Regions from separate parts of the Homo sapiens genome. Here region 2 is linked to region 1. The links come from fine-mapping of genetic effects on plasma protein levels. A gene starts in region 1. The other region holds a variant in brackets. All regions are shown on one strand. Distances are from middle to middle.

Region 1 (5,390 bases):
TCCAGCTACGTGATGGATACTCACCACCCAGGACTCCTGTTTTGGCCAGGCAGCTCAGCAATAGGAGCAGCCGCATGCTTCTGGAAGCCATCTTCCTCCTACCCTGAGGATGTAGCTAGTGCAAGGATCTCAGAGACCTTACTAGCGCTTCTTTGAAACTCCTGGGTTCTCCTTGATCTGCAAATCTGAACACATTTGCACAGGTGAGAAGGACCCAGGAATCTAGATGCCAACTAATACATATGGAGGAAAATAATACAATATTTTCCTGGCTAAATCCAGACTTTATAATGAAGGGAATCTCAAGTTAGATGTACAGGTTAGAAAATTTTAAGAGATTTTGTTCTTACCTGCAAGACCTCCTGGGCCAGTGCCAGAGATCTAACTATAGCAGGCTGAACAGTTTCATAGTCTGCATGGAGGCAATTTGTAAACCACCGAGCACTCGCCCCTGTTAGCTTCAGGAGGGCCAGCAGAGGGCGCCCAAGGCAAGCTTCCTCACAGGTAAGACGGATATGGGCATTCTGTTGTCAAGAAAATCCAATAGAATGGCTCCGACATTGAATTTTTAAATGTTAAAATTAAACGTGAGCACAGTGTCCAATACCCACATTTTACAGATGAGAAAACCTGAGGTCAGTAAGTATGAAGTCATTTGTTCATGGACACCAGCTATAAGCAGATCTGACTCCATCAGCACTCTTTCCTTTACACTTAGTTGACATCATTTTTAAAAATAAAGAACATGGCTTTATCTTTTCCCCATTAGCAAACAACACATGAGCTATTAGAAAATCAATGCAAAACTAGAAAATAAGAAGTAAATCCCATCTCCAGGAGATAATTTGGTGAGTAGCCTACAGATATCTTTCTATGCACCTCTCTCTGTGTACAATTTTATAAAAATAAGATCATATAGTCCTATAGCCTGGTTTTGTTTCTCAGAAACAGATTAATTGTAATACATTGTCTTGCACTCACATAACTTTCATGCATTTTTTATTTTTTCTTTAGTATAAATTCTCATATATAGGGTTGTGGCATCACACAACATGCACATTGTCATTTTAATACCCTTTGTTAAAATGTATGGGCTGTGATATTTACCTCATTAATAGGGCACTAAAAGGATTGGTTCCCTAAGCTCCCAGAGAATGCTTAATTTTGTCAAGTTTTTGGCTAATTTTGGTATATTAAAGAAGAACCTTAGTGTTTTAAAATATTTTATAATTACTAATGAAGTTGAACATCTTTTTATATAATGATTTGCTTTTAGTATTTGGTGAATTTTCATTTTACAGTTTTGCACATTTTTCTATTTCATTGTTTGTGAGATCTTTTTTGTATGTTTATTTGTGAGATCTTTTTTGTATGTTTATTGCCTTTCACGTGTTACTAATAGTATTTCTCAGTTTGTATTTTTCTCTTACTTATTATAATTTTTGCCATTCTGAAATTTTCAAAAATATTGTTATTTTTTATGTTTTTAAAAATAATTTTTAAATTTATATCAAAAGACTGGCCATTACTGTCACATAAGGTTAAAATATTTATCACTGTTCTATTTTCATCTGTCTGGGCTTTGTTTTAACATAAGTATGAAACTGAGTTCTGGATTTCCCTCCCAAATAATTCTTAAAATGAGTTAATTCATTGAATTCACATTTAATCATACTTTATGATTAAAAAATCTGAATATACAATCTAACTCTCAAATAATGGATTGCTTAAAGAGAATAATGTAAATGATGACTTTTCTGGAAAATCAATTCTGGGGTCCATCTGAACACTTTAAGGCAACATTAACTGAGAATGAGACAAAGCTTGGAGAGTGTGGATGTGACCTTCCCCACCCCTTACTTCTTTTTAAATCATTGCGTGAACCTTGCACTTTGCTAAACTTTCCTTCCAAAAGTAATAGTGTATTTTCAATGTCCTCAAACCCCTTTAAAACGCAAACAGAATTTCTCTGTCAAGGTGACCATCTGGGGGAAGGGAGAGGCAGCATCTTTTTTACTAATCTGTGAATAATTTTTAGTGAACTGATATTCATTGAATGTCTGCATGTCATGTTCATAAGTAAGCTGCACTGGGCCGGGTGTGGTGGCTCATGGCTGAAATCCCAGCACTTTGAGAGGCTGAGGCAGGTGGATCACCTGAGGTCAGGAGTTCAAGACCAGCCTGGCCAACATGGCACAACCCTGTCTCTATTAAAAAATACAAAAATTAGCTGGGCGTGGTGGCAAGTGCCTGTAATCACAGCTACTCAGGAGGCTGAGGCAGGAGAATCACTTGAACCTGGGAGGCAGAAGTTGCAGTGAGCCAAGATTGCACCATTGCTCTCCAGCCTGGGAGACAGAGCAAGACTCCATAAAAAAACAAAAACAAAAACAAAAACAGAAACAAAAACAAAAAACCTGCACTGTAGATCTCATGAATGCATGTTACAAATGAAGACACTGACACTTATGATTGAGTAACTTTTCTAAAGTTTCCCAGCTACCAGACTGCAGAGCCAAGATTTAACCCAACAGCTTGACACCAAAGCCAATGCTCTTTGCAGTGAAGGAAGAAAAGAAGGTAAATAATTTAAATCAAACAACACAGCAACAGAAAGCCTGACAAGCCTCACTAGAAATACAATTTGTCATTTCTGGCCTGGCTAATAGCTGACAGAGGAAAACAGATGTTTAAAGAAAGTCCCCCATCATCAACCGCGAGGAGGATTACCTGTTTGGCAACCAAGACTCTAAGGGCCCCTGCCTTCTTCAGTGTCTCCAGTGGTCCCAGTCAACGTTTCTGGAGCTTTTATATCTTCTTGCCTCAGGAATTAATAATCTTTACTTTAGTCACAAAGCGATAATATTATTTGAGAAAAACAATCCATCCATAAAAGTCTTATCTACAGTGAAAAAAATGAATCATATAAGAGACGGCTTCAGAATGTACGTAAGGTGTGCTTTGACTAGCCAGGAAAAGAACCTCTCCCTGTGTGCAAACAGAATCTTTTCTTCACATCACGTTATTAAAACTGACAACATCCTGTAATCTGTTATAAGCCCATCTTCCTCTCCCCTTATGTTACTTTTTCATGGCTGTCTTTTTATGCCTTGGTATGGTGGATTTCCTTTATTTCTCTTTTATTTCTAGAAGGATTTTCTGTCAGGGTCAGGAATAGGTTATGACCCATGCGGTGAGACTTGAGACCCACACACAGATTTTCCTTCCTAAAGCACCGACTCCACTCCTTCAACATGCGTGAGTTTCCTCAGAGATCTACTATTTGAGCTTCTCCCGCAGAACATGGATGATCATGTCAAAATAGCTTACATCAACAGAGTGTGTTACAATAACGGGTTTTCAGTGAAGTCATCAAATAAGATGCCAACAAAATCCTTGTGAGCAGCATAGGACACATATCCCCATTACACACTCAAGAAACCCAACCTTAAGAGAGATTAGAAACCTTCCGAGGTTCACAACACTGGTCAGCAGTGGACCTGGACACTGAACCTTGTCCTTCTGACTCCAAATATAGGTGTTTGCCAAAATACAGTTCTACTGAAAAATAGGCTATTTGAAAAGAGTAACAAGATTTTCTTTTCCAGTATAGATGGCAAAGGGTTAGGTTGTAGGTGCCAGAGATGACTCAACTTTAAACTACAGATTTAAGTCTGTAAAGGACCTTTATGTCTGGAAACTTTAAGTCTGGAAGGGACCATAGTAGTTATCAAATCTTACTCTTTTGTTCTACTGGTGAGGAAATTGAGGCCTAGAGAAACATTGTGACTAGTTTAATGCACAGACAGTTGTGGGTGAAGCTGATATCAGAAGCCAGCTTCCTTGCTCCCAGCTCACTGTTGTTTGGAAAATGCTACTCAACCTTTGTTATTAGATTTTTGCATCAGTTGTGTAAATTCATGGTAGGACATGAGAAAGTAATGCTTTCATGGTTCACAAAGAACATTTTAAAGAATCTCTCCCATCAGAATGTTTGACACAAACCTCTTTCTCTTTAGGCAGCTGGATGGGAATCATCATTGCTTCATGGCACAATGGCGTACAAAGATGTTAACTCCAAGCCTTTCAATTTCAGAAGTCCTGGTCCAGATGTAAGACAGAAAAGTTTTAACAAAATGGGTGATTAGATAGATCTCCTGTGTTTCCAGCAGCCATCCCAACCCTTAGTCTGCTATCCCCATGCCATTATCCAGATTTAAAGACTTGAGATGAGAGAGAAGAGAGTAGAACAGATTAGAAAACAAGATGTTCATAGGACTTTTAAGAGGTCTCTTACTGAACCCTCACATTGACTAGCTCCAAATTAAGGCATTGATAGGACTCACATAAACCTTTGAGATGTAAGAATGTAAAGGACCAGAAAATTGTCTGAATCAAAAAGGTCCACTGAATAGTAAGTTTATTTAAAAAAAAAAAGTCTACATATAAACACCTCATACATGAAATGGTCAAAGTGAGAATCCTAAAAGCCCCAAATCAGCAATGATCACCTTCAAAGTGACAAGGATGGGGATGGCACCATAATGGAGAGATAAAGTGGAAGCCAGGCAGCTTTCGAATAGTAGCTTTATTTATTTATTTATTATTTTTAATTTCAATAGGTTTTTGGGGAACAGGTGGTGTTTGGTTACATGATAAGTTCTTTAGCGGTGATTTCTGAGATTTTGGGGCACCCATCATCCAAGCGGTGTATACTATACCCAACGTGTAGCCTTTTATCTCCTGCCACCCCCCACCCTTTCGCCCGAGTCCCCAAAGTCCAGTGGATCGTTCTTGTGCCTTTGCATCCTCATAACTCCCACATATGACTGAAAACATCAGTGTTTGGTTTTCCATTCCTGAGTTACTTCACTTAGAATAATAGTCTCCAATTCCATCCAGGTTGCTGTGAATGCCATTATTTCATTCCTTTTTATGGCTCGGTAGTATGGAACACTAGCTTTAAAGTGCAAAGGAAAACAACTTTCAACCTGGAATTCTGTACCCAGCTAACCAACCATTAAGGGTGAGTATGACAAAAAGATATGTTAAAGTTATGAGAACGTAGTAAGATTGCTATCCATAGACTCATTGAAATTACTGCTTAAGCGTGTCCTTTGTCAAAAAATAAAATAATCCCAGAAGATGTGTTACAATAAAGAAATGTGTTGACTGTATTAGTTATAATAATGTTTAAAATAAAATTAATAGTAACTTTATTTCATTTTTAATATAAGTAGGAACAAAAATACCAGACAATAACAAACGAGATTAAAGAGAGTTAGGAATGAAGTTAAAATATTCTAAGATCTGATCATGATTAAATTGAGACTTCATTAGAAAATATTAATTTAAGTATATGTATTATCAGAGTACTTTTTTGATAATGC
Region 2 (5,390 bases), 1.7 Mb after region 1:
GATGGATGCCATCAAGCTATAGAGGTCTTACAAATGGAACCCTAAATGAGGTCAACTAACAACTTCTACTGAGGCCCCTGGATCAACTCACTGGCCCTTTGTCTGGCCTAGAGAGTTCTCCTCTGGAGGACGCTACCACTGCAGGCCCCCTTCTTCACCCCTATCCAGCAGGAAGTAGCTAAAGTAGTCATCGCCCAATTCCCACAGCAGTTGAGGTGTCCTATTTGGAGGGGGGATTGACAGGTGAAGCCAGCTGGGCTTCTGGGTCAGGTGGGGACTTGGAGAACTTTTCTGTCTAGCTAGAGGATTGTAAACGCACCAAAGCTCTGTGTCTAGCTAGAGGATTGTAAACACACCAGTCAGCATTCTGTAAAAATGAACCAATCAGCACTCTGTAAAATGGACCAATCAGCACTCTGTAAAATGGACCAATCAGCAGGACATGGGTGGGGCCAAATAAGGGAATAAAAGCTGGCCACCAGAGCCAGTAGTGGCAACCTGCTTGGGTCCCCTTCCATGCTGTGGAAGCGTTATTCTTTCATTCTTCATAATAAATCTTGCTGCTGCTCACTCTTTGGGTCTACACTACCTTTATGAGCTGTAACACCATGAGGGTCTGTGGCTTCATTCCTGAAGTCAGTGAGACCATGAACCCACCAGAAGGAACAAACTCCGTATGTGCCACCTTTAAGGGCTGTAACACTCACCACGAGGTCTGCAGCTTCATTCTTGAAGTCAGCGAGACCAAGAGCCCACCAGAAGGAATAAATTCCGGACACAAACTCAGAATACTCTAATACTATAATTGTAGTGTGCAATCCACTTATAAATCAAATATGAAGCCTCAAAAAGCAAATCTATCAAAAACAATCATAGCTACAGAAACTTGTTAAGAGATAGGTAATATAAAGATATGTAAAGTCAATTAAAATTCAAAATGAGAGAGAAATGAAGTTAAAATGTGGAAGTTTTGTTTTTTCTTTGTTTGTTTCTATTCTTTGTGATCTAAGATAAATTGTCATCTCTTTAAAATAACTTGTTATATCTACAAGACGTTTTTTGTAAACCTCATAGTAACCATAATGCAAAAACCTATAATAGATTCACAAAAATTAAAAAGCAGCAAATTAAAACATACTACCACAGAAAATCACTTAACCACAAAAGGAGAGTCAGAAAAGAAGAAAGGAAGAGAGGAGTTTCAAAATACCAGAAAACAAGCAACATAACGGCAGTAGCAATTCCCTACTTATCAATAATAACACTGGATTTACATGGACTTGATTCTCCAATTAAAAGGCATAGGGTGGCTGAATGGATAAAGAAACAATACCTAACTACATGCTGCCTATAAGAAACCCACTTCACCTCTAAACATATAGATAGACTGAAAGTGAAGGGGTGAAAAAAGATATTGCATGCAACTGGAAACTAAAAAAGAGTGGGAGTAACTATACTTATATTAGAGGAAATAGACTACAAATCAAAGATTGTAAAAAGGGATAAAGAAGTTTACTACATAATGATTAAAAGGTCAATTCAGTAAGAAAATGTAACCATTATATACATCTATGAACCAACACTGATAGGTCTATACAAATATAAGTATAAAAAACTGATTAAAGTAATTGAACGAAACATTTAAATAAGGATATTCTATGTCATGGATTGGAAGAATTAATATTGCTAAAATAACAATACTATCCAAAGCAATTTACAGATTTAATGCAATCCTTATTAAAAAACCAATGCCATTCTTCACAGAAATAGGACAAATGCTAAAATTTATATGAAACCACAAAGACCCTGAAGACCCAAAGCAATTTGGAGCAAAAAAAGAAAAAAAAAAAAAAAAGGCTGGAGGCATCACATTACCTGGCTTCAAAATTTACTGCAAAGATATAATAACCAACTATTCACAATAGTAAAGACATGGAATCTATCCAAATGCCCATCAATGGTAGACTGGATAAAGAAAATGTTGTACATATACACCATGGAATACTATGCAGCCATAAAAAGGAACAAGATCATATCCTTTGTAGGGACATAGACGGAGCTGGAAGCTGTTATCCTCAGCAAACTAATGCAGGGACAGAAAACCAAACACCACATATTCTCAGCTGAATGAGCTTAATGATGAGACCGCATGGACACATACTGGGCCTGTTGGGGGTGGGGTGTTGCAGGAAGGAGAGCATCAGGAAGAATAGCTAATGCATGCTGGGCTTAATACCTAGGTGATGGGATGATCTGTGAAGCAAACCACCATGGCACATACTTACCTACGTAAGAAACCTGCATATTCTGCACATGTACCCTGGAACTTAAAACAAAAATTAAACATTAAAAAAAAAGCTATAGTAACCCAATTAGCCTAGAACTGGCAAGAAAACAGACACATAGACCAATGAAACAGAATAGAGAACCCAGAAATAAACCGATGCATTGACAGCCAACTCATCTTCAACAACAGCACCAAGAGCATACAACAGGAAAAGGAGTGTCTGTTTAATAAATGGTGCTGGGAAAACTAGGTAATTACATGTAGAAGGATGAAACCAGACCCCTATATCTCACCATACACAAAAATAAAATTAAAATGGATTAAAGGTTTAAATCTAAGACCTAGAACTATGACTATGAAACAATTAGATGAAAACTTTGGGGAAGTGTTCCAGGACATTAGTCTGAGCAATGATACTTTGTGTAAGACCTCTAAAGCACAGGCAACCAAGAAAGAATAGACAAATGGGATTGAATCAGGCTAAAAAGCTTCTGCACAGCAAAAGAAACAATCAACAATGATTTAAGGTCCTGTATGGGGGATTTGTTAAAGTATAATCAAAATGGAGGCCACAGTATATCCTTAGGTTAACCACTCATAGCCACATGACCAAAATTTAAGCTATCCTGACTTCCCTGAAATGCAATTTCTAACCATTAACAAAAGTTAAGCTTTCCTTTCTTGTTAGTATGATGAAATTGAACCAATTTGTTACAGACAAATAAGCTTATACAGCTCTACTTGCCCAAAAAGGAATATAAGTTTTTAACAGCCAGTCACAATA[G/C]AGGTCAATGCACTTCCTCATTGATGCTTTATAAGCTGCACTGTAACTCTCATGTCAAGTTTCTTACTACTTTTGATTTGAAGTCTTCCGGTTTGTGAACTATTCTTTTGTATGTATGATAACCTGCATATTCCTTTTTTACTTGATCTGACTTTATTTTTACGCGGTCCTCCATGGTGTTTGGGTTTCTCACAGTGTGGCAGTCTCAGGATAATACCGTAGTACTTTTCACCAGGCAGCTGTCTTCTATGAGCAAGGTCTCCAAGAGAAAGGAAGTGGAAGCTCTTGTGGTCTGGAACAGAAAGCCCACACAATCTTTCTCTCTCGCTCTCTCTTTTTTTTTTTGAGACAGAGTTTTGCTCTGTTGCCCTGGCTGGAGTGCAGTGGCGCAATCTTGGCTTACCGCAAGCTCTGCCTCCTGGGTTCAAGCAATTCTCCTGCCTTAGCTTCCCAAGTAGCTGGGATTATAGGCATGTGCCACCACGCCCAGTTAATTTTTTTTTTTTTTTTTTTTTGCATTTTTAGTAGAGATGGGGTTTCACCATATTGGCCAGGCTGGTTTCGAGCTCCTGACCTTGTCATCTGCCTGCCTCAGCCTCCCAAAGTGCTGGAATTACAGGCGCGAGCCACCAGGCCTGGCCAGCCCACACAATATCTCTTCAGCAATATTCAGTAGGTTAGGGGAGTCACAGAGCCCACCCAACTCAAGGGGAGAAAACAAAGGACCCTTATTCCCCCTTTATACACTTCATGATGATGAGAGTATCAAAGTGCTTGTTGCAATATTTATTTCACCAAGGAGGAAAAGGTCAGTTTGGACCAGAAAGGTCAGAAAAAGTTATATAGGGAAGGCAGTTGATAAGCTGGTTTTAAAGGATATGGAGCATTTGAAAAAGTGGAATGTGCATAAGGCTGGAAATATCAAATATCTAAATATAGAACAGGAACAATGATGAAAAGACTTTCAAAATGCTTAGCAAAATGAGAATTATATTTCTTTCTCAACTTTTTTGTTCTAACAGCAAAAGCAACAGTGGGGATCAGCATCAACTTGGGCAAGTAAGTTTTTCTTGTCATAAATAGGCTGATTCAACTGAAAAAAAAATGTTTAAGTAAGTTCAGCTCATTTGAAGACGGGTGAATACTGTGTCTAAGGATTTTATGAGACTAACTGGGAAAAGTCAGTCAGAGTTTAGTTTGAGGTGAGAAGTGCTTAGTGTTGACACTCTACCTAATTATAGGGAAACGTGTGCAGTTAGTCCTGAGACCAGATGCAGGGTAGAAAGAAAGAGGCGTGATGTAGCAGCCATTGATTAGGCAATTTGGGTTTAGCAAGCCCAGTCAATGCCCTCAGAGGGTCAACAGTGTATACAATTTAGTCCTTGAAGGCATCTTTTAAAGTTTCATTCAAAAGATTTTAATCATTGTGACCATAATTTTCTGAGAAGAGGCTTTTCTAAGATTTGTTATTCACAGATAAATAGTTGTCTAATTTGTGTGTGTGTGTGTGTACATGTGTGCATGCGTGCATTCGTGCATGCGTGCCTATCTAGCCTTTTTTGAACACAATGACTGGCACCTGGTAGATAATATGGTTGAATGAATTGTATTATTCATATTCTCTCACTGCCAACTTGAAGAATCTACATCTGTTTCCAAAGTTTTGCGCATATAATACTAAAACAAAAACGGACATGTTTTAGTAATACGTACCAATTACAAATTAACCATTCCTGCCTGGAATAAGCATAGGTTTTGTTAAATAGTTCAATTTTCAAAATTTGTCTCTTATGTTATTTCCAATCCTTTTTTTTTTTTTTAACGCTGATATATTTTGAATTTACGAATGTGAAAGCTGAACTTCAAAAAATAAAGGGAGAGGAAACAAAGCTCGTGAAAAATATTTAAAATATCTTTTAATGCGTTATAACATCCTGGAGAGAAATCAAATCAATGTGTTTCAATGTTACAACATAGATTTCTCCTCCCCTCCCGGATAAAGCACTAATTTATTTAATTTGGTTCAGAGCACTGAATATTCCAAGCTACAGCCTCGTGGGTAAGAGATAGCATTATCTTAAACAGTGTTCGGATTTAACAAAGGTCAACGTCTTGTGCAGTTTACATAGCATCTACTCTCAGTAGCTTTTGCTTCTTGAGCTCTACGTGGCTCCTCAGAAGCTGTTAGGCTTAACAAACAAAAATAAAGTAAAATCAGATACGGTATGGGGCCTTGGGACACTGAAACCTTCATCCGTAGAAAATCAGTTAAGTCTTCACAGGCTAGAAGAGAGGGTGTGTGTGATTAGTAGGCAAAGC

Which allele goes with the higher level. Alleles are on the strand shown, and positions count from the first base shown. The strength of an association depends on the size of the effect and on how common the allele is.
For the plasma level of the protein whose gene starts at base 2,782 in region 1, allele C in region 2 goes with a higher level than allele G (weak association).

The links. A credible set is the group of variants that fine-mapping cannot tell apart. PIP is the posterior inclusion probability: the model's chance that the variant is causal. Protein levels are from antibody-based Olink assays in UK Biobank. Linkage for the fine-mapping came from a reference panel and not from the study's own genotypes, which makes the PIPs less certain.
Region 2: its variant is the best candidate, but not a certain one, in a credible set for the plasma level of the REG4 protein (UK Biobank, PIP 0.90).

The regions. Positions count from the first base shown.
Region 1 is chr1:119,808,679-119,814,068 of GRCh38, forward strand. REG4 (regenerating family member 4) reads right to left here and starts at 2,782. Exons shown (of 6, transcript NM_032044.4): 1 at 2,731-2,782; 2 at 25-185. The coding sequence starts at 91.
Region 2 is chr1:121,513,404-121,518,793 of GRCh38, forward strand. No RefSeq gene overlaps it. Among named protein-coding and RNA genes, the nearest start is that of SRGAP2-AS1, 120 kb to the left of the region's middle. The variant G/C (reference allele first, on the strand shown) is at 3,072.